Linked DNA regions of Homo sapiens: all the other regions are linked to region 1. Evidence: fine-mapped expression QTL. A gene starts in region 1. Each other region holds a variant in brackets. All regions are shown on one strand. Distances are between the middles of the regions.

Region 1 (8,003 bases):
ACCTGCCTGAAACTGCCTGGCAGGCCCTTTCCCCTCTCTGGGGACTGTTCTTTCCCCAACGCCAACAGGCAAGCGCTGCCATGTTTTTATAACTGCTTAGTCCAAGGGACGGCCACAAATGACCAAGGCCAGACCAATCCCAAGTGGAATCCTTCCACGGTATTTTTATAACTGAATTAGAGACAGGAAACCCTTTTGGGGGAGCAGAAATGACAAAATGTGAAATACAGGAACCGTTCATTCCCTGCTCTGTGGAGGAACCAGCCAGCTATGAAGGAGAACTGAGCCAAAGGGTACAGAAAAGTCCCACGCACTCACACACCCACACACTCAAGCACCCAGCTCTTCACATGGTTCCATTACCAGCCTTTCCTTCTACTGTGATAGGCCCCCCAAACCCCTCAATACCTGACATTTTTGCCAAAGCTCATTTCAACTTCTACAGCTTTAAACCAAAAGCCTCTAACATCAATACTTAGCTACTTCTAAATGCTACATGTTTTAAACAAGTTTTATGTGCTTTAAGATTTTTCTATACAGATAATGTTTTCCTTTGGATATTTAAATAGGTTTTAAAATACTAATTTCTAAAAGGCTCACATTTCACTGTGGATAAAAATCTTTTAGAGTATCTATTTAAAACAAGTCTTGGCTCATATCATTCAACATCCTCCCCACACTATTAAAATATCATCTTAAGACGCTTACTGTTTGATCATTTTTAGTTTAATTCTAAATGTAACAAGACAAAACTGCCTTAAGTCTTTTCCTTTATGTATTCAGTTATATTCTCTGCTTAAAATACTTAAAAATTGGCACTGATCCATTCACTGATGGGTATTTTAAGTTACAAAGCAGTAACATATCAAATTAACCACACAATGGCAGGCTTACTCCCGACTATGACCATTGCCCAAATCAAGATTTTCATTACCACCTCAATGGACTTGAACATTTTCACCTTAATTGCAAGTTGTTATGTTTCAATCAAATCGACTTTGGCTTAATAGACTGCAATGCAGTTCAGCTACATTCAATATAACAAACCCTTAGTTCACAGTCTCTTAAAATCACCATAGATTTCCTTCCCCTGTAGTCAAGGTCTTGAAAATTCCCTGAATGTTGCTGCATTTGGAAGGTTATAATAGTAAGACAACTTTTATATAGTATTCTACAAATCCTAGTATAACACTGTGCACCTAGTAGACTGAAAAAACAGAATCTTGAGTTAGACTTGGAAATCATCCAAACAACCTCAGTTCACAGATGCAAACACTGATGCCAAAACCTGACCTTAACATGCCCAAGGTCAACAGTTAGAATTTAAGAAAAACTTAAAGCGCAGATTCAATGAGCGTTTTACCACAGTATGTGGAAGATGCTCGTATACAACACCATGCTTGTTTGTTCTTAAGACTGCTGACATATTTATTCTCACATTATACTATAAACTTTGGTGCACAGAAGGTCATATAAAACATTTATCTAATATCAGACATTGTCACCTAAAATGAAATCAAACCAGAAATACATGGCATCTAAGGGTTTTAGATTTCATGTTTATATTACACCTCCATTCTTTTTTCAAAAATAATATAGTAAAGAAAATAGACATTTTGAAAAAAAAGGCTGTGAAACAGACCTTTCTTATGTCAACTCAGAGCCCTCAAAATAAAGACAGTTGGATAAAAATATTAGAGGTGTTTTAGCAATTCTTCCCACAGTAGCTGGCACTGTATGTGCCCAATATATATCTGTTGAATGAGTAACATGCTTACATTTATATGAAATGGAAACTTCACTCCTCTGGTTGTGGATACTTAGAACTGCCAACTTCTCTTGAGAGCAAAAGAAAATAACACCAAATGTACTATTTACAAGTCATACACTATGAAACACTTAAGTAGTTTCAAAATATTTCCAATTAGCAAGAAACTCTAAAACAAATGTAGCAATTCATAAATATAAGGTAGCAACGTAAGTGGTTACAGTAAAACATACACAATTACAAGATTTTTTAAGGCAAACTGGAATTCAGACGAGTTCCCAGAAAGCACACTCTTTTTCGGCAGCATATTGTTGACACTACCTTACTAAATTAAACCCCGAGACAGAAACACTCTCCTGACCAAAACACCAGAACTCCAAAGGAGATAAAAGCACCATAAATATGAGTAAGCACTACAGTATTCATCCTTTTTTTAAATTGTAAGTTTCTATTCTAGTAATAAGGGACCCAAAAACTACTAACATAAATAATAAAAGAGCTTAACAAAATTATACATAACTCTACATTGTAAACTTATTACTTAGGAAAAATTGCATTTCATTTTCCGTAATAAAACTTGAGAGAGGAGTTTTTGGTGCAGTAATGCATGCTCTTGTAACAACTTACATTCCCAAATAGCTAAAGAAGTTGCCAGGAAGTTAAAATGAACTTCAGTGAGTCAGTCATTAAGCTGGATAAAAATAATCATTTCTCAACTTTTCCAAAAACACTCACTCCATGCAAACACGATCGATCCTGATACTGTTTTGCCCTTCCCCCTGCTCAGCTTGGGGAAGAAAAATACAAAAACGATGCTTTTAGGCATTTTAAACAACTTCACTACATTGAGGGTGTGTGTGTGTGTGTGTGTGTGTGTGTCTGTGTGTGTGTTTTCCGAAAAACCAGCATGGTTTTCTGTCATTTCCATTACGCTGAAAAGGACATACAGACATCCATCGAAATCAAAAGCAGGGAAAGCGAACTTACACTTTTCCCCAGATGCTAAGTGACTGCAGTGGCTAAGGTCATGGTCAAAATTCACAGCTCGTTTAAACTTTCCTGGCTGAGCCAACAGCTCCGATCATGTTTCCTGATCCTATCGAAGTGGATTAAAACTGCAGGAGTTTCTCGCTGTCAGATCAGCAGGAGGCTATTTCAGACCCTCGAACCGCAGTCCGCATAGCCCGCAGCGGCGCATCCTCCAATCCCCGACTGTGCGTGACGCTAACCTTTCCACGCGTTCTCCAGCCTTTCCCACACCCCCCACAGCGGGTGCGGCCAACTCGGGACCCCCTCCGCCCGCGCCCGCCGGGACCCCCGCCTGCTGTCCCCGCCCCGGCCGCCCTTCCGCAGTCGGTGACTTCTGCCTGACTCCCCAAAGTGGGGGGAGGCGACGAAGGGAGGAAGACTCCCCGCCAAGGGCTCTCCAGCCCGCACAGCGGCAGGGCGATGCGGGAGAAGCGCAGGGATGCCGCCCGACGCCAGAGCCATATTTACATCGGCTGCTGCTTTGCCAAAAAGCCGACTTGTGCCCAGTAATATTGCCTTTAAAGGAAAAAGAAAGGACCTAAGCACTAAAGCTGCTGCCCCAAATCTGCTCGCGCTCCGGTATCCTCGCCCCAGTGCCCCAGTGGGAGGCTCGCACGCGCCCAGCCCGGGACAGGTACACCTGCCCGCAAGCGGAAGACGCGGGCGCCGCGCGGCCCCCACACCGGGTAGCGGTCGCCCGGACCCGGCCCCCAGCAGCTCCCGCCGGGGCTGACAGCCGAGGCGCCGTGCCCCGCACAAACTTCCTACCTCCCAGGCTGCGGGGACCGACCTGCGGGCGGGCGGGCGGACCGGGGGCGGCACTGGCACCCACCGTGAGACTCACATGCACACGGGACCCCCGACCCGCACCGGGCCATAGATCTAAAGGGGACGCAAGTGGTGGTGCCTGGGCGGCCCAGAGGGCTGGGGGCACGCGCCGCGGGGCTGGGGGCTTCGAGGCGGGCGAGCAGCCGGAGGTCCAGGGCTGACTCCGGCTCCCCGCCCCGCAGCAGCTGCAGCCGGAGGAGGAGGGGAACGAGGAGGAAGAGGAGGAGGAGGAAGGGGACCGCGCGCCGCAGCTGAGCCCTTACCGAGTGGTTTACCCCCCACATGAGGACGCTGAGCAGCGGGTCGCTGGCCCGAAACAGCTTCACTTTCTGCGCTACGAAGTGCTTCTTCTTGGTCTTGGTCTTGCTCGCCAGGACAGAGGACCCTAGGTTGCCGGGGGTCGCCATGGCCGCCTCCTATGTCCCCTCCACCGCCGTGCTCCCGAGGCCGGGGACCCGCCCTCTCTACACCCCGGCCCGGGGAGGCAGCCGCATCCCCCCGGCGGCGGCCCCGGCGCGCCGCGCTCCGCTCCGCCCGCCGCCGCCGGCGCGCTCAGCCCCACTCGGCTCGCTCCGCCCGCTCGGCCCGGCAGACTGCGCTCGGCTCGCGCCCCGGCCCGTATCCTGCGCCCGCCGCGGATCCGCGCTCAGCCCGCGGCTGGACCCGGCGCGCGGCGAGCGGCTTCCGCGTTGGGCGCCGGCGTCATGACGCAGGGGGCGGGCGGGCAGGCGGGAGGCGGCTGCGGCGCCGCGGGCGGGGCACTGGGTGCGGGGCGCGGGGCGCGGCAGCTGGACCGTTAGGCTGCGCCTTCCCGCCCCGGCTCCGCTGCAGCCGGGCCGCCCCCTGTGCGCGGGCGACCTCCGGGCGTTCGCTCCCTGCCCGCGGAGGAGGCCGTGGGTTGCGAGCGGGAGCCTGGGGACCCCGGCTAGGCGTCCCCTGCCGCTCCCCAAGGAGGGAGAGGACAGAGTGGGCAGAGTGAGGAGGTTGGGGAGAGGAGCCCCCAGGCGTCGATCAGGCGAAGGAGGGAGGCTCATGCACTCACCCACGCCACGAGTCAGGAGACCCAGCCAGGTGTGAAATGCTGCAGGGAGACCAGGGCTTCCCAGCACCGAGGGGAAGGACCCGGGCACATTGCCGGGTCAGTCCCTGAAATGAACTTAATACTTTTGTGCGGATAACCGTCTGGCCTTTCAGACCCTCGATATGGGCCTCCTGGAGCCATTCAAGAGGGAGACTCCCACGTAATAGGCTGGGCTGTCACTGCCAACCCACTCCGTGCCCGGGGCAGGAACCTCGGACCTCATCGAGAGCCCTTGGCTTAACCAGTAGAATCATGCCCCAAAGTGCACCTTCTTCCAATCCATCACTATGGTACTTGCCATCCCTGCCTGTTTTCCAGTGCACTCACCGTCCGTGGAAATCTGTTCACCGTCTTCCTCCAGATACACCTAAATGTAGCCCTTATTATGCTGAGAATACTTGGCCTACCTCAGGAAGCTGCCATTCCAAGTATGTCTAAAACCCTGCTGCCCCCATATCGTCCTTGCAGTCGTCATCCTGTGCTATTTACTCTGACCCAGCTCACCAGTCCTCACGGAGTAGGTTCTTGGAAACTGTCACCTTAAGCAAAACAACATATAACAAAACCAAATTTGCCATAGGCTGACATATAAAAAAAGAGTTAAGTTCCTACAGCATTATTTCCGGTTACAAAAACATCACCGAACTTCAAAGTAAAAATTCAAAACACTTCTAATATTAAACATTAAAATAAATGTGAGCTATACCTCTTTTTTATTTTTATTTTTTCCCTTGAGATAGGGTCTCGCTGTGTCAACCAGGCTGGGGGTGCAGTGGTGCAATCACAGCTCACTGCAGGCTCTACTTCCCCAGACTCAGGTGATTCTCCCACTTCAGACTCCCCAGTAGTTGAGACTACAGGCGCGCACCACCAAGCCTGGATAAACTTCTTGTATTTTTGGTAGAGATGGGGTTTCACCATGCTGCCCAGGTTGGTCTCGAACTCCTGGGCTTAAGGAATCTGCCCACCTTGGCCTCCTAAAGTGCTGGGAATACAGGCACCAGCCACTGCACCTGGCCTACCTACATTTTTTAAAGATTGATAAAAACAAGATAATGGTTTGCCAAATTTCTAGTGATTAAGTGAGCGATGGTTGCTGTGGTGCTGGGTTAAGTCAAGGAATAAGTGTTTGCAAAGCAAAAGTTGCCTGTAGGACCTGCTGCTACCATGAAATTCAAAAACAATCACAAATATGGTAGCTGAGTGCACTCCTATCTCATTTATTGTCGTGCATTTTTATGATTAATGTACACTTACATATTTTTATTTTACAGTCATTTGTTTCACGGATTTATTCATTTTTCCAACTCATTTATTCCAGTTCAAGGTCACAGATAGTGGGAGCCTTATCCCAGCTGCTCAGCTTGGGCAAAAGGTGGGAACCATCCCTGGATAGGATGCCATTCTGTTGCAAGACACACACACACACACACACACACACACACACACCACACACACACACACACACCCCTACACTCACTTAAACTGGGACCATTTAGGAAGGGGGCAGTGATTCATGCCTGTAGTCCCAGCACTTTGGGAGGCATGAGGCAGGTGGACTGCTTGAGCCCAGGAGTTGGAGACCAGCCTGAGCAATATGGTGAAACCCCATCTCTACCATAAATACAAAAATTAACCAGGCATGGTGGTACACACCTGTAGTCTCAGCTATTCTGGAGGCTGCAGTAGGCGGATTGCTTGAGCCCAGGAGTTGGAGGCTGCAGTGAGCTGTGATAATGCCACTACACTCTAGCTTGGGTAATAGATGGAGACCCCGTCTCTTAAAACAAAAAAAAAAAAAGAAAAGAAAAACTACTGGTATCATGTAGACAAGCCTATGAACTGAACGTGCATGTCTTTAAGATGTGAGAGGAAACCAAGGTACCCAAAGAAAACTCTTGCAGGCACGAGGAGAACCTGCAAATACAAACAGTGGTCCCGGCTAGAAATCCATTTTTTTCTCATCAACATTATAACAAAACAACATTGAACAAAATGACAGTATTTGAGGACCCGCTGTAAGTTGTCTGTTGTCATTATTACTCCACTCAAATATAGTAGATACCTTCTGTGCCCTTGGCAGACTGCTTGGTCCTGTCAGGGAGATGAAGGATGACAGGCCATTATCCCTTTAGGATCTTGAGTCTCCTCAGGGGTTGAGGGGAGGTCATGTGGTCACCTTCATTTGCTCCTATTCTTTCTTTGACTGTTTTTTAAGTCCCCTCGTCGTAATTTCCTGCTTGCTTTCATCCAAAATGATATCTGCTTCTCCAGCATCAACCATCACTGCTCTTAGTGGTTTAAAAAAGCCCAAAACCTAAATTTTTAGTGAGACATCACGGGGACTGAGCTGTAGCTCTCCCACTTACTTGAGCAAATCACTTAACCTCTCCCAGCCTCGGGTTCTTTATGTTAACAGTAACTATCATCAGACACAAATGTCACTTTAGGAACTATTTTGAACCTAGTAATATAATCCTCCCCTACCTACATTATAGGATGTTTGTTAGAATCAAAATCAATAGTAGATAATGGCAATGAAAACCCTTTGTAAACCAGACAACACAATAGAAAATGTAGAGTGCTTGCAAGTAACTCATAAACTCTTCCCCGACCCCAGAGAAATGCCTGGTTGCACATTTGTACATCATTTTTCCACAGGCATCTTTTAAAAGTGTCTAAAACCATCTGGGCATGCTGGCTGATGCCTGTAATCCCAGCACTTTTGGGACGCCAAGATGGGAGAATCACTTGAGCCCAGGAGTTCAAGGGTAGCCTGGATATAATAGCGAGATCTCATTTCTACCAAAAAAAAAAAAAAAAATTTAAATTAGCTGCACATGGTGGTATGCATCCTGTGGTCTCAGTTACTTGGGAGGCTGAGGCAGGAGGATCACTGAGGCTGCAGTGAGCTATGACTGCACCACTGCACTCCAGCCTGGGCAACAGAGCAAGACCCTATCTCAAAAAAAAAAAAAAAGATATCTAAAGCCAAGTTTGACATCTTTCCCCATCCACAAGTTACTTTATTTCTTGTATTATATTGGAAATGGCATTCATATCACTCGGTTACCCCAGCTGGAAGTTCTTTTATTTAACAAATTTTCATTGGCCAGGCTTGAAGGCTTACCATCATCATCAATTATTGCCTTTCACCACCACCCAACCTAAACTCCTTTATTGGATCCTGCCCTTGAAAACAATTAGACTCAAAAATCCTCTCTTCCCTGATGCTTTCCTGATCCTCCTAATTCAAATTCATCCTTCCACCTCAGTGCTTCCATAGCATTTATTTGT
Region 2 (8,003 bases), 110 kb before region 1:
AGCCCCAAACATCCCTCCCTCTGTGACCCGCATCCCTGCTCTCTTAGCTTTCAGGTCCCAGTGCCTCTGTGGCTCTTGTCCTTTGCCACTGGCCACTGAACCTGTGGGTTTACTTCTCTCAATGTCTTTTCAAGCTGCTCCGTGCTTTACATGGTGGGTGACGGAGGCTTGGCTCACTGGGATTTCATGGCCTCCTGATTTCCTTATCTCCCTTCTATGCATTCTATAAATTACAATGCAGTTATCTTTAGAAAATACAGACCTCGGGTGGGTGCAGTGGCTCACATCTGTAATCCCAGTACTTTGGGAGGCTAAGGTGGGTGGATCGCTTGAGCCCAGGAGTTCGAGACCAGCCTGGGCAACATGGCAAAACCCTGTGTCTTCAAAAATTACAAAACTTAGCTGGGCATAGTGGCACATACCTGTAGTCCCAGGTACTCAGGGGGCTGAAGTGGCAGGATCGATTGAGCCCAGGAGTTGGGAGGCTGCAGTGAGCCAAGATTGTGCCACTGTACTCCAGCCTGGGCAACAGAGTGAAACTCTGTCTATAAAAAAAAAAAAAGAAAAGAAAAGAAAAGAAAGAAAGAAAAAGAAAAAAGAAAAGAAAAGAAAATACAGATGTCATGACATTGCCATTCCCCTGAGCAAAACCCACAGGGCTGCTCGCTGGCAGCAGAATCGGCCCAGTGTCCCTGGTGTCTTTGTGTTTCTTGCTATTTTAACATCTTTATCTCCCACTATTCTGCCACCATCCAAATACCTTCACATTTCATGGGCTCTCCTGCCTTCCGCTTGGGCCCAGAGAGTTCACTTCTCTTCAAAGTCCCCATTAGCCCTCACTCTCTTTCACAAGTATTTCTTATTTACTTATTTATTTTTCATGTTTTTAGAGATGGTGTCTCACTGTGTTGCCCAGGCTGGTCTCGAACTCCTGGGCTCAAGAGATCCTCCTGCACTGGCCACCTGAGTAGCTGGGATTACAGGTGTGGCCACTGTCCTGACTGCAAATATTTCTTAAGTGCCTGCTGAGCCCAGCATTGTGCTCAACGGGTGACAGGCAGCCAGCAAACACAAACACTGCTCCTGCCCTCAGGCAGTTTAAAGTCAAAAGTGAGAAATCTACAAGTGAAAGTTTCAGAGGATAGACTTGATATTCTAGAGATAAAGGCAGAATTCCTGCTGCCCCACTTCAAGTTTAGTATACACTGAAGGTCTTAACACTTTAGAATTTTATTTCTAAACTTGAAATAAGAATATCAAAAGTTTAAAATGTTAGCTCTTAAAATTAATTATTTTAAAATTAGAATTCTCTGTTACAAACACAAAGAAGAAAGGGCATCAGATGTCAATAATGAGGGATTCTAATTCAGGAGTCACAGTAGGGGAAAAGCAAACCTGGTATTATCCTCCACAGTGAACAAGAGGCCTCACTTTCAAATGTGTGGTCTATTTAGGTTTAACAGCATCAGCTCCCTCCTGCATAACTTTTTGGTTTCTGGGAGGCAACCCTCTCTGGCAGCTACTAAATGTAACTGAAGCCTCCGTTTGACTTCCCAGGGCTGTTTAATGTTCTTCATGAAAATCTGCACCCCTCTTTCCAGTCTCTCTGGGTATAAACATAAGAGACGATCAAATGAGTATAAGAGACTGGAAAGAGGGGTGCAGATTTTCATGAAGAACATTACAAATCAAGATGCTGGGTTTCTGTAAATCTCGTTAGCATCTAATACAGAATCTGGTATGCAATAGTTTTTAAAGAAAGTGATGCTTCACCCTTTCTTCTCTCTGCATTCCCTAAAACGGCTAGCACAGAGCCTGACATGTGGTAGGTACAAACAAATACTTTGACTGGATAATTATGCATGAAATCCCAGACCTCAGGGTGATCAGGGCTTAAGGGGGCAGTGGTAATGGTAGACACAGGACTGCGGCTATAGTCACAGAACAGGCCTCCCAGGCAGCATTCATCCTGAAACACACCTTTAAAGTATGACGATGGATATCATGCTGGCCAAACAATGATCAGAACCTTGATGACACACTGATTCAACCCTGAGCATATTACAAACCTATCATGCAATTTAAAAATGCCCTAATGAATTGGAAAAAGTTCTGAATCTAGAAGCACTGGTTACACACATGCGCGAGCACACACGCGCGCACGCACACACACACACACACACACACACACAGAGGTTTACATATGTATGTTACATGGTACTGTGGTACTGTTATTAACAATGGATATTCTAGAATTGTTCTTTGAATTTGTCTTTAACAACAAGGAAAAGTCATTTTTAAAAGATATTCCAGAAATCAAAACCAGAGGAAAGATACAAATGTTTACTGAGAAAGCAGGAATGTTTTCATTTTTCATTTCATTATCCTTTTCATTTATCTTAAAAACTTTTTAAGAAGTTTAAATTCACCAGTAGGGGTCAACTGCATAGGTTACTACTTAACCATGCTCTGCTTTAATCAGAGTGGTCTCCACAGACCAATACCTACTTTTTTCAGGTGTAGCAAAAAGGTGGTCACACAAACAAGACAAGTCGGGACCATTTACCCACTTGGCTGAATGGAAAGGTCTGAATACGAGATAAACCAGACGATGGAGCCCCTAACCACCACATTGATTTAGAGCCGCTTGTCCAAAATGCAAGCAGTTTGGAAAAATAAACACAGCAGGCAATGCCTGTTCCCCTTCAGCTATCCAGTGTCCTCCAAAACACTATGAGAGCCTAGGTCACTGATCCTACTTTCCAAGTCAGTTGGGAAAGAGTATTCAAAAAGCAGCTCACATTGATAAGCTCAGAAAGAGAGTTGGTTTTTTTCCGATATACGCAGTCTTCAGCAGCCAGTACCCAGGAGTGACAGAGGCGGCCGGTGGGAGACTCTACTCAGCAAAGGCACATTGGCAAGCTCCAGGAGAGGAAAACAAGGTTGCTTTTAGTCATTTGGCGCCACATGTGCCAAATGATACCTGTTACTTGAACTGGGCATGAGGATTGAACTGTCTGGGCAGTAACAATGTGCCAGGCAGCTGAAGCCCCAGGTCCTGGCCCCTGCC[C/T]GCCTGCCGCCTGAATCCCTGCAGTATACAGGGGCCTGCGAGGTGACCCTGGAGCCAGAGCTGTCACAACGACCCTCCTTTCTTCCAAACCAAGTAGCCAAAAGACTGGGATACAGCCCCAGATTTACGATCCTGTTTTCAGCTGGAACTCAGGGTCCCTGACCCTACTGAAGAATTTTAAGAGGTACAGACACTGGGAAAGAAATATACGACTGAGGAGGGAAGAAGAGTATACCTCTGCAGTACTGAAGTGACTCTGAATACACACTTTTTCTTTCTTTTTTTTCTTTTTTTAATAGAAATACAGTTGCCAAAGAGAAAGCAGCAGGCAGAGCTAAGGAAAGGAGGAGTGTTCGAATGATTAATCACACTCACACCACTCTCCCCAACAGGGAGCTCTCATGTGAAGAGTTTAACGGACTTGCCAATTAGTTACTTGTGAATCATCCTCCACTTGCCTAATTTTCTTTCAAAGTTTGTACTCAGCAATTTGTACTGACTTCAATATCAACTTACGTAGTTTTCTTTGTAGGGCGAAAAAAAGGGAAGGAAAACCAGTTCATGTCTTTGCATTTCAGCAACTAAATTGGTCATTTGAGGAAATTTTAAAAACTACTTTTCTCTGCTGCAGTGCAGAACTCAGACCATAATGGGTTCATTTTGGATCTCATTTGACAGAATTGATTATGACAAGAAATAGAAAGACTTCATTTCAATAATGAATTGAGGAATCTAACAAGATAAGATAGATGCATGGGCCCTCAAAAGTCAGTTTCTGTGAAATGCCAGTGGAATTGTTTTATTAAAACAAAACCCAGCCAAACAAAAAAAGGACGTGGAGAGAAGGAGGAACACACTGGTGTTCAGCTTTTCTTAAGGCAGAGGAGATTTTCTTAAGACACTGAAGCTATCTGCTGTTAATTCCTTTAAAAAAAAAAAAAAAGCACCTAGTTCATTTTCAGGTGGCCTCTTTAAATTTAGTAATGGTTCTAAAGTGATACAGAATTATTAATTTTAACTTCAGAGAAATGCTTTTTACTATTCTAATAATTTTCTGTTAAAGTTAATTATTTTTACAGCAGTAAATTTCAAGTCCATAATTGTGATCTAAGTTCTCTCTTAAAAATTAAGCCCCAAGGCCAGGTGCACTGGCTCATGCTCTGGGAGGACGGCTTGAGGCCAGGAGTTTGAGACCAGCCTGGGTAACATAGTGAGACCCCAATCTCTACCAAAAAAAAAAAAAAAATTAGCTGGGCATGGTGGTGCACACCTGTAGTCCTAGCTACTCTGGACGCTGAGGTCGGAGGATCACTTGAGCCCAGCAGTTTGAGGCTGCAGTGAGCTATGATCACACCACTGTACTCCAGCCTGGGCAACAGAGCAAGACCTTGTATCAAGAAAAAAAAAGAAACGCCCTAACAGGAGTGTTGGCTCCCACGCAGTTTTAATAGCAGATGAGCAACCACATCCTTCCTGTCCCACTAGCCAGCCCTCAGCTCTTCTGTGTACACAGAGCCTCAGCTCAGGGTCTGGACCTCCATGTAAACCACAACCCCAGGCCATCATGAGACAATGTCACCGGCAGCCTGGTCAGCGCTGCTTTCTCCAAACATGGCAGCCTCTCTCATGCCTGAGTAAACATATGAAAAATTCCTGGAAATTTTTGGCAATGGTACAGAGAGGGCAGTGGGAGCACAGATCTTTAGGAAAGTGTGCTAACTATCTCAGTTTGCCTGAGGGACCCTATTCTTCAGAGGAAAATACAGGGTAAGCTGTATCAGTACTCAATCTGTAGTCACCCAGGGTGGCAATATGTCACTTAATGCAGGATAAATTCAGATCTTAAATTGAGGGCAGATTAGGACTAGATTTGAAGGGACTTAAGTCAGTATATGCTGAGCATCCTTTATTTGAAATGCCTGCAGCCAGTCGTATTTCAGATTTTTTCAGATTTCAGAATATTTGCAAAGATAATGAGATATCTTGGGGATGGGACCCAAGTCTAAACACGAAATTTATCTATTTCATATACACCTTATACACATAGCCTAAAGGTAATTTTATACAATATTTTAAATAATTGTGTACATGAAACAAAGGCTGTGTTGAGCACTTAACTGTGGAATTTTCCACTTGTGGCATCACGTTGATGATCAGAAAATATTCGATTTGGAAGCATTTTGGATTTCAGATTTTCTGATTGGGATACTCAACCTGTCCCTTGGATTTCCACTTTTAAAAAAAATCCTTAGCATTTACGAATCTGGCTCGCTATATGAAACTTGGGTAACCAATGTCAAATCCTTTCTCAGAAAAAAATGATCATGGCTCAACAGTTATTTAAAGAGTTAAAACAGATGTTTAAAAGTTAGAATGAAGGACCAGGCCAGTGTGGGGAGGAGAGCAGCAGTGCACATTTTTACGTGGTGGGAATCAAGATGAAGAGGAAGATGTACCACAGGACACGCCCAGGATGTTGGGTTCCTGGTGCTGACCACAGTGCTATGGTCACTCCACAGTCCAGCACTGCAGTGCACAAAGGGTGCCCTTTGACAAAAATGCTGCAGCAAGAGTCTGACCAACTTGAAAAGCAGCAAATCAGCAAGATAAAGATTCCTGAGAGTCCTAAGTAGCCTCTACGAAGATACAAAACATGCACACTCACACAGGCTACTGACATGTCTGACAGCAGAAATTAACAGGCAGCTCTGCTAGCCTGTTAATTTCCACCTGGAAATGAGAGTATTATATAAAACCCTCACATGCTCAGTCTCCTTCCAAAGAAAAGTAATATATTTTCCTACTGACTTTTATACCGGTATCATATGTATAGAGGTCCCCAATCAAGAGAACACTTTACTTCAGCATGAACATTAAAAACTTCTTACACAAAATGAAAATTACTATTATATAATACTTTTATTGACAAAAATACAGATCCCAATTGACACAGCAAAAGTCATGGCAAAACCCATTTCCTACTGGAAGCAAATGTTACAAACGCAACTCACCTGGAAATCTTGATCATCAATTCCAAACCTCTCCCGCAGGTTACGGAAGACCATCGGGCAGTATTCCTTAAACTTGAAATGGCTCGGCATGTTTTCTCTGAAACAGTCACAGCGTGGAATAAAGCTCAGAGAGAGTCAATCAGACTTGCATCTGCCACCACTGAGTTCCACAGGTAGCCAAAGAAGGGTTCAGAGTTCACTGCCTACCAAAAGCACAGGTGTGCTTCCTAGAACCAGGTACAACCCGCAGAAAGATCCAGGAGACACAGGGGGCCAGACGGATGTCTGTCTGTCTCCTTTGTCACAGGCACGCTTGGACTATGTGACCTCTTTAAATCCTGGCCACACACTGCAGCCATTCCTCAAAGAACAAGAGGTGGGGAAGGAACGGGCCAGGCAGGGGGAGCAGTGAGGGAAAAGCACAATGGCGGGAGAGTGAGTTAGGAAGAGGCAGCGGAGCAAGGTTCCCTCTCAGCTACTGCTGAGGAAAGGAGGGCCACTCCCTCACCCCCCTAAAAGGCCTGTTTTATATAAATGCCACATTCTAAATTTGCTTAGAGGAAATTCCCTGAAAGTCAGCTTCTAAACACTGTTATGAGAAAAATTAACATCAGCTTCACATAAGGACAATGGCCCCCTGAAGAAATTTCATAATTGGCCTGGCATGGTGGCTTACACCACTCATTTGTAATCCCAGCACTTTGGGAGACTGAGGTGGGAGGATTTCTTGAGGCCAGGAGTTTGAGGCCAGCCTGGGGAACATAGTGAGACCCCTGTCTTTACAAAAAGTTTTTTAAAAAATCAGCTGGGCATGGTAACCTGCACCCGTAGTCCCAGCTATTCAGAAGGCTCAGGAAGGGGGATTGCTTGACCCCAGGAATTTGAGACTGCAGTGAGATATAATTTCACCACTGCACACCAGCCTGAGCAACAGAGCAAGATCCTGTCTCAAAAAAAAATTTCATAATGATCCTCACATGGGAGTGATTTGAGGTTCACCCTAATCATTCAGAATTGTTTCCCTCTTTGTGTTCCCACACAACCAGATAAATTAAATTATACATATGCACACACCCCTCCCTTATCATACTTTGCACACTGAACTATAGCAGTTTGTATATGTGTCAGTTTTTGTACTCTGAGCCCCTTGAGGGCAGGGCCGTGTCTTCTATATCATTGCATCTCTAGCTCTCAATGGACCACCTAACATATAATAGGTGCTTCATAATGACGTCTAAAACAACATTCAAATGAAGGAGGAATGTTATCAATGCCCAACATGGCATCTAATTGTGCCTTATGAAAATGTACCTTGGGTCTTTATTGTTCTAAGATGGAGTCATTGCTGTTCATAAATCATCATTTTCAAAGTTCTGTGTACAAGAGCAGAGGTTCATAACTGCTCAAAAATCCAAGCAATTTACAGCTTCAAAAATTTGAATTATAATGAGAATATCACTTTCAACGTATAAGATATTCATAGAGAACAATATGCCATATGGCAAAGGATATTATCCCAGAGAGCCTGCTGTTGCTTCTCTAAAAATGACAGATGGTTATGTTTATCACAGGATTAACTTCATCAGCAAAACTTTACTCCCACCCATTGACAAATTATGTGATTACAAAAATTCACAAAACTTGTACTCCTAGCAGCCACGCTAGTCTTATGAAAGGTCATACTTGTACTTACTTGTTAAAAAGGTGATTGTCCACCTTTATTTTTGAATAGGCTTTGAAGTCATCTGGCATCAACATAACAGGGATTTGAACATGGCTCAGTTCATTGATCTGGAAAAATATAAAATAAATAGCATGGGTTATTACTATCCAGGTGAGGAGGACTTGACTTGAATGTGTACCTTGGGAAAAAAAACATGGTGGACACAGGAACTTCTCTTCCCACCCACCAACCCACCCTC
Region 3 (8,003 bases), 140 kb after region 1:
AAGATGGTAGTATCTTGTGCTGAAATAAGAGAGGTAGAAGAAGAGCATGGATTGGAAGGTGGGAAGATGCGTGATTTAGGTAGGAACTTTTGCTGTGCCTTTGTGATGTCTGCATGGAGATGACAGGTTGACAGGTGGACAGATGGGTCGGAGGCGCCGATGGAATGTCTGGTCTAGAGATATGCATTTGTGAGTCATCTGTGCAAGTTTGTCATTGCTAAGAATGCCTAAGAAAAGCACGTGGAGTGAGGAAAAGTTCTGGCATAACATGGTGGATATTTAATGGCCAGGTTTGTACAAAGGAAATGGGGTAGCCAGAGAGATGAGGGCAAGACAAAAAAGTCCTGCACCACCAGAGCCTGGCAAAGAGTGTTCTGAACAATCCCAGAGTCCTTCTGTTACAGCTTCAATGTTCTTTGTGTTGTAGATGGCAAAGTTTCTGCTGAGTTTGAGGAAGAAGGGGCAGATGCGTGTGTTTGTGTGTGCATGTGGTGTGAGAGTGGCTGTCACCAAAGGAGGGGAGAAGCTCTGTAGAAGTTTTGATGGAAAGTAGGAGAGTGAGTTAATCAAAATATGTAGTAAGAGGGTCCATCTGAGATTCATTTTTTTTTTTTTTTTTGAGACAGGGTCTCACTCTGTTGCCCAGGCTGGAGTGCAGTAGTGCAATCTGGGCTCACTGCAACTAATGCCTCCCAAGTTCAAGCGATTCTCCTGCCTCAGCCTCCTGAGTAGCTGGGATTACAGGCATGCTGCACCAGCATGCCCATCTAATTTTTGTATTTTTAATAGAGACAGGGTTTCACCATGTTGGCCAGGCTGGTCTCAAACTCCTGACCTCAAGTGATCAGCCCACCTCAGCCTCTCAAAGTTCTGGGATTACAGGCATAAGCCACCGCACTCGGCCCTGAGATTCATTTTTATGCATTTACAATAAAGCCAGTCTGCTCCATTGCGTGCCTTTCTTCAGAAGAGTTCAGCTGCTGGGGGTTGGAATGCAAATAGCTGGATTCATTAGGGGTGAGAGTTTGCCAGAAGAGGGAAACAAACAAAAAAAGCTCAAAGGGCAAGGGAATATAGAGTATTGGCAAAAGGGCTATCAACTTGCTGAACCCTTGGCATCTGCCAGATGAGGAGGATGTGCAGACGGGACAAGGTCAAGGCACTGAGAGACTGAGGATGGAGCTGCAAGCCTGAAATCCTGATGGGGCTGAGGAATGGCCTCAGTGGAAGGAGCTGAGTCAGCCAGGGCAAGGGGAAGTAGTGATGCTCAGAGGACATTTGCTTCAGTGACTCTGCAAGTGGGGGACTGGGGAGTGACAGGAAGACCCAATGTGTGTGCACTAGGATGGATGATTTGAGTGGAGTGGAAGAGCTATTGCAGATGAGAACTTGAGGAATCAGAGGCCATTTGGTACAGCGGAACGCCATGTGTTTGTTGAATTTATTGGGCAGGATGGTGGGACTTTGAGTCCACATGCTAAGACTTTGACAAATGGCTGGGAAGGGAGTGACCAGGAATTGGCTAGAAGAAAATAACAGGAAGGAGTGGTTGAGCTGAAAACCACGAAGTCCAAAAAAGCAAGAATTTTTGCAAGAGGGAACAATAGTAGTGGATGCAAGTGGAACAAGGAGCAAAGACGATGGCAGCCCACCTCCATAATAGGGTGCATGTGAGAGAGAAAGGCATTCCCGGGCAATTGGAAGGAGTGTCTTCTGAGAAGAGACAGCTTTCGGCTGACGCAAGATGCATGAAGGAAGCTCAGGAAGAGCAGAGGAGGTGGGAGAGTTTCTCTGATGGCAGAGGGGAAGGGGTTGGGAGGCAACTCGGTGCCTAGAAGTGCAGCATTCTTGTTACAAACACAGACAGGAGAATATGGTAGTCCCCTCTTATCCTCATGAGATGTGTTCCAAGACCCCCATTGGATGCCTGAAACCATGGATGGTACCAGATCCTATAGATATTGTTTTTTCCTATACCTACATACCTATGATACAGTTTAATTGATAAAGTAGGCACAGTAAGAGATTAATAACAGTAACTCATAATAAGATAGAATGATTCTAAAAATATACTGCAGTAAAAGTTGTGGGAATGTGGTCTCTCTCTCCAAATATTTTACTGTTCTGTGCTCACCCTTCTTGTGATGATGTGGGATACCACAATGCCTTTGTGATGAGATGCAGTGAGGTAAATGATACAGACATTGTGACGTAGGGTTGGGCTACTATTGACTTTCTGACGATTAGGAGGACCATCTGCTTCAGGTGAACCTGGATCATCGAACCATAATTGATGGCAGTGACTGAATGTCAGGAGCAGATGCTATTGATGACTAATGGGTGGGTAGTACAATGTGGATCCACTGGACAAAGGGATGATTCATGTCCCAGGTGGGATGGGGCGGGACAATTCAAGATTTTATCACCCTTCTCAGAATGCTACCCAGTTTAAAACTTATAATTTGTTTCTTTCTGGAATTTTCTGTTTAATATTTTTGGACTGTGGTTGACCTCGGGTAACTGAAACCACAAAAAGTAAAGCTGTAGATAAGGGAGGACACTATAACAAACTGTAGACCAGGAAGAAGAAAGATGCCTGAAAAATAATAATGGAATGAAGAAAAATAAATCGTTAGGCAGTAATCCCTACCAATATAAAGTCAAATCAGACCAAGAAGATCAGGCCCTCCAGGAGGCCTCTGACCCCTAAGCAAATGGCTTTCAATTTAGAGCAGAGTTTGTTCAAACTGGGGTTTGAACTCTATTTTTAGACAATTCTCTTAACATGTAACCCCAAATATTTATATTATAGCTAAAAAGATTGTACCCTGGTGAAAAAAATAGCTGAATTTAAATACACATATATACATACATACACACATATTTACACACATACACAATCTTGCCAATTAAAGATGCCAATTTAATCAACTCTTGGCTTTCTCTTCATAATGAACAATCTCGAGCCCTTACTTTTTTGCAGAAGTCCCATTTTCTAATCCTGGTTGACTTTAGGGATAGAATGTTCTCCAAGTTCTCCATGCCCCTTAATTCTAGAACTCAGGAATGGACACCCTGCTCCTAGAAAAGTTTGACTAGTACCATGTATAATGGGAGGGTGATCTCATGGTTCCTCTGGGGACTTGGTTTTACATCCTGGCACTGTTCAGTCTTTAAAAAGCTGCTGTTATGACTGACTCCAGCTTATCTATTTTCATTGCTGGCTCGTTTTAAGACATCCTTCCCTGTAGCCAGTCACATCTTATCTTCTATTTGTATACTTCACTTCCCTCTCCTGGAGGGACTCCTACCCTGCATTTATCTTCAGCAAACTTTAAAAAGCATCCTGACCACTGTTCTAATTTAGTAGGGTTATTTTAAACTTTGCTCTTCACCAGCGGGCTGAGG[C/G]TGGTCTTCCCACTCCTCCATTGAAGCAGTGACTAATGTGCTCTGAGTTTCCTTCATGCCAACGCTGTGTTTGGGGATGTCTGTTTGCAAACATTTCAGCCTGAATTTTTCTCTGCTACTCCTGCGGCCTCCCTGTGCTGGGAGCACTTCTGTGGAGGTCAGGCCTTGGTCAGTGTCGATCCTTGTTCCTTTTGGCCTTTATCAGTTAAGAGAATCAGCTGGGTGCAGTGGCTCACACCTATAATCCCAGCACTTTGGGAGGCCAAGGTGGCTGATTCACTTCAGGTCAGGAGTTCAAGACCAGCCTGGCCAACATAGTGAACCCTCGTCCGTACTAAAAATACAAAAATTAGCTGGGCATGGTGGTGTGTGCCTATAGTCCCAACTACTTGGGAGGCTGAGGCAGGAAAATTGCTTGAACCCAGGAGGCAGAGGTTGCAGTGAGCTGAGATCATGCCACTGCACTCCAGCCTGGGCAACAGAGGAAAAAAAAAAAGAGAATAAATTCCCTAATATTTCAAACCTTAGGTCAAACGTCTGTAGATGTTAATGTTGAGGAGGACTATTTCTAAATTAACACACAGACAACAAGAACTTAATCTTTTAGATCCAAAATCAGCACCCGTACTATTATTATTTTTTTGGTTCTTTTATATATTATATATCCCAGAGACTATGTCTGTTTTGTACTGCAAGAGCCGGTGAAATGTCTATCCTTTTTTTTTTTTTTAAATAGACAGGACCTTGTTCTGTTGCCCAGGTTGGAGTGCAGTGGAATGATCACAGGTCACTGCTGCCTTGAACTCCTTGGCCCAGGTGATCCTCCCGCCTCAGCCTCCCAAACAGCTGGGACTGCAGGCATGTGCTGCCATGTCCAGCAAATTTTTAAATTTGGTGTCAAGACAGGGTCTCGCTATGTTGCCCAGGCTGGTCTTGAACTTGTGGCCTCCAGCAATTCTCCTGCCCCAGCCTTTGGAGTAGCTGGTACTACAGGAGCACCATTGCACCTGCCTGGTCGTAATTTTTAACTCAACCATTCCAGAGGGTAAGAGTATCATTAAATAGTGAAAGAAAGAATGAACGCAAAGTCAGAAAATGCAGGAAAGGATGCACAGAGGCAGCTACAAATCCTCCCTCAAGCCAGGACTAATCCCTTCCTGTCCAAGTTCCAATGGCTGATGCTTCATCTTTCTTCCTTTCCTCTGGTCTACATGATTTCTCTGTAAATGTTGTTACAAGCATTTGCATCTAAATCTTGTTTTCTCTATGAAACTACAAACCTGCAGAGGGAAGTTCCTGATGGTTGCTAATCTATCTCTATTTCACTCACAGTATTTTACCTAATGTCTTAAAACAGTCAGTGCTCAATAAAGATTGGTCACAGCGGCTCATGTGTGCCATCTCATCTCAATGCTTTGGGAGGCCAGGCAGGAGAATCGCCTGGGCCCAGGAGAGCCAGACCAGCTTGGGCAAGAGAGTAGGACATTGTTTTTTGAAGGAAAAAAAAAAAAAAAAAATGAGCCAAGCTTGGTACACACCTGTAGTCCCCACTGTGTGGGAGTCTGAGGTGGGAGGATCACTTGAGCCTAGGAGGAGGAGGCTGCAGTGAGCTATGATTGTGCCACTGAACTCCAGCCTGAGTAACAGAGTGAGACCTTGTCTCAAAAAAAAAAAAAAAAGAAAAGAAAAAATTTGGCTGGGTGCAGTGGCTCATGCCTGCAATGCCAGCACTTTGGGAAGGTGGGGTGGGCATATCATTTGAGGTCAGCAGTTTGAGGCCAGTCTGGCCAACATGGTGAAAACCCCCCTCTACTAAAAATACAGAAACTAGCTGGGCGTGGGGGCATACACTTGTAATCCTAGCTACTGGAGAGGCTGAGACAGAAGACTCGCTTGAAACCAGGAGGTGGAGGTTGCAGTGAGCTGAGATTGCACCACTGCACTCCAGCCTGGGCGACAGAGCCAGGCTCCATCTGAAAAAAAAAAAAAAAAAAAAAAAAAAGTTGACTGAGTGAACAATGAAAGAACACATGCAATTTAAGAAAGTTTAGTCCCAAGTTGATTTACTGTTTTGGCAAAGTAATTTAATTTTAATCGAATTCTCTTCTAATTCAAAACTTTAATTGATTTAAATAATAATAAGATGAAAAATAACCAATTTGAAATCTAGAGACACAGACTGGCAAATTGGATAAAGAGTCAAGACCCATCAGTGCGCTGTATTCAGGAATCCCATCTCACGTGCAGAGACACACATAGGCTCAAAATAAAGGGATGGAGGAAGATCTACCAAGCAAATGGAAAACAAAAAAAGGCAGGGGTTGCAATCCTAGTCTCTGATAAAACAGACTTTAAACCAACAAAGATCAAAAGAGGCAAAGAAGGCCATTACATAATGGTAAAGGGATCAATTCAACAAGAAGAGCTAACTATCCTAAATATATATGCACCCAATACAGGAGCACCCAGATTCATAAAGCAAGTCCTGAGTGACCTACAAAGAGACTTAGACTCCCACACAATAATAATGGTAGACTTTAACACCCCACTGTCAACATTAGACAGATCAACGAGACAGAAAGTTAACAAGGATATCCAGGAATTGAACTCAGCTCTGCACCAAGCGGACCTAATAGACATCTACAGAACTCTCCACCCCAAATCAACAGAATATACATTCTTTTCAGCACCACACCACACCTATTCCAAAATTGACCACATAGTTGGAAGTAAAGCACTCCTCAGCAAATGTAAAAGAACACAAATTATAACAAACTGTCTCTCAGACCACAGTGCAATCAAACTAGAACTCAGGACTAAGAAACTCACTCAAAACCACTCAACTACATGGAAACTGAACAACCTGCTCCTGAATGACTACTGGGTACATAACGAAATGAAGGCAGAAATAAAGATGTTCTTTGAAACCAATGAGAACAAAGACAAAACATACCAGAATCTCTGGGACACATTCAAAGCAGTGTGTAGAGGGAAATTTATAGCACTAAATGCCCACAAGAGAAAGCAGGAAAGATCAAAAATTGACACCCTAACGTCACAATTAAAAGAACTAGAGAAGCAAGAGCAAACACATTCAAAAGCTAGCAGAAGGCAAGAAATAACTAAGATCAGAGCAGAACTGAAGGAAATAAAGACACAAGAAACCCTACAAAAAATTAATGAATCCAGGAGCTGGTTTTTTGAAAAGATCAGCAAAATTGATAGACCGCTAGCAAGACTAATAAAGAAGAAAAGAGAGAAGAATCAAATAGATGCAATAAAAAATGATAAAGGGGATATCACCACCGATCCCACAGAAATACAAACTACCATCAGAGAATACTACAAACACCTCTACGCAAATAAACTAGAAAATCTAGAAGAAATGGATAAATTCCTCGACACATAGACTCTCCCAAGACTAAACCAGGAAGAAGTTGAATCTCTGAATAGACCAATAACAGGATCTGAAATTGAGGCAATAATTAATAGCCTGCCAACCAAAAAAAATCCAGGACCAGATGGATTCACAGCCGAATTCTACCAGAGGTATAAGGAGGAGCTGGTACCATTCCTTCTGAAACTATTCCAATCAATAGAAAAAGAGGGAATCCTCCCTAACTCATTTTATGAGGCCAGCATCATCCTGATACCAAAGCCTGGCAGCGACAGCACCAAAAAAGAGAATTTTAGACCAATATCCTTGATGAACACTGATGCAAAAATCCTCAATAAAATACTGGCAAACCGAATCCAGCAGCATATCAAAAAGCTTATCCACCATGATCAAGTTGGCTTCATCCTTGGGATGCAAGGCTGGTTCAACATACACAAATCAATAAATGTAATCCAGCATATAAACAGAACCAAAGACAAAAAACACATGATTATCTCAATAGATGCCGAAAAGGCCTTTGACAAAATTCAACAACTCTTCATGCTAAAAACTCTCAATAAATTAGGTATTGATGGAACGTATCTCAAAATAATAAGAGCTATCTGTGGCAAACCCACAGCCAATATCATACTGAATGGGCAAAAACTGGAAGCATTCCCTTTGAAAACTGGCACAAGACAGGGATGCCCTCTCTCACCACTCCTATTCAACATAGTGTTGGAAGTTCTGGCCAGGGCAATTAGGCATGAGAAGGAAATAAAGGGTATTCGATTAGGAAAAGAGGAAGTCAAATTGTCCCTGTTTGCAGATGACATGACAGTGTATCTAGAAAACCCCATTGTCTCAGCCCAAAATCTCCTTAAGCTGATAAGCAACTTCAGCAAAGTCTCAGGATACAAAATCAATGTACGAAAATCACAAGCATTCTTATACACCAATAACAGACAAACAGAGAGCCAAATCATGAGTGAACTCCCATTCACAATTGCTTCAAAGAGAATAAAATACCTAGGAATCCAACTTACAAGGGATGTGAAGGACCTCTTCAAGGAGAACTACAAACCACTGCTCAATGAAATAAAAGAGGATACAAACAAATGGAAGAACATTCCATGCTCATGGGTAGGAAGAATCAATATGGTGAAAATGGCCATACTGCCCAAGGTAATTTATAGATTCAATGCCATCCCCATCAAGC

Direction of the effects. Positions count from the first base shown, and alleles are read on the strand shown. Sizes are in standard deviations (SD) of each study's normalised expression. Not every link is listed here.
For the expression in left ventricle of the gene that starts at base 4,284 in region 1, G is the low allele of the variant in region 3 and C is the other (small effect, 0.24 SD a copy in GTEx).

Evidence for each region. PIP is the estimated chance that this variant, and not a neighbour inherited with it, causes the effect.
Region 2: its variant is fine-mapped to the expression of PIP4K2A in whole blood (TOPMed, PIP 0.97).
Region 3: its variant is fine-mapped to the expression of PIP4K2A in left ventricle (GTEx, PIP 0.95).

The regions. Positions count from the first base shown.
Region 1 is chr10:22,710,295-22,718,297 of GRCh38, forward strand. PIP4K2A (phosphatidylinositol-5-phosphate 4-kinase type 2 alpha) reads right to left here and starts at 4,284. Exons shown (of 10, transcript NM_005028.5): 1 at 3,889-4,284. The coding sequence starts at 4,032. RefSeq lists silencers at 3,020-3,129, 3,430-3,549, 3,720-3,799, 4,100-4,769 and enhancers at 3,930-4,538, 4,539-5,146.
Region 2 is chr10:22,601,846-22,609,848 of GRCh38, forward strand. It overlaps PIP4K2A (phosphatidylinositol-5-phosphate 4-kinase type 2 alpha), which reads right to left. Exons shown (of 10, transcript NM_005028.5): 2 at 7,775-7,872; 3 at 6,082-6,178. Among named protein-coding and RNA genes, the nearest start is that of PIP4K2A, 110 kb to the right of the region's middle. RefSeq lists an enhancer at 3,248-3,397. The variant C/T (reference allele first, on the strand shown) is at 3,071.
Region 3 is chr10:22,851,879-22,859,881 of GRCh38, forward strand. It overlaps LOC105376451 (a long non-coding RNA gene), which reads left to right and starts at 2,222. Exons shown (of 3, transcript XR_930749.3): 1 at 2,222-2,340. The variant C/G (reference allele first, on the strand shown) is at 3,409.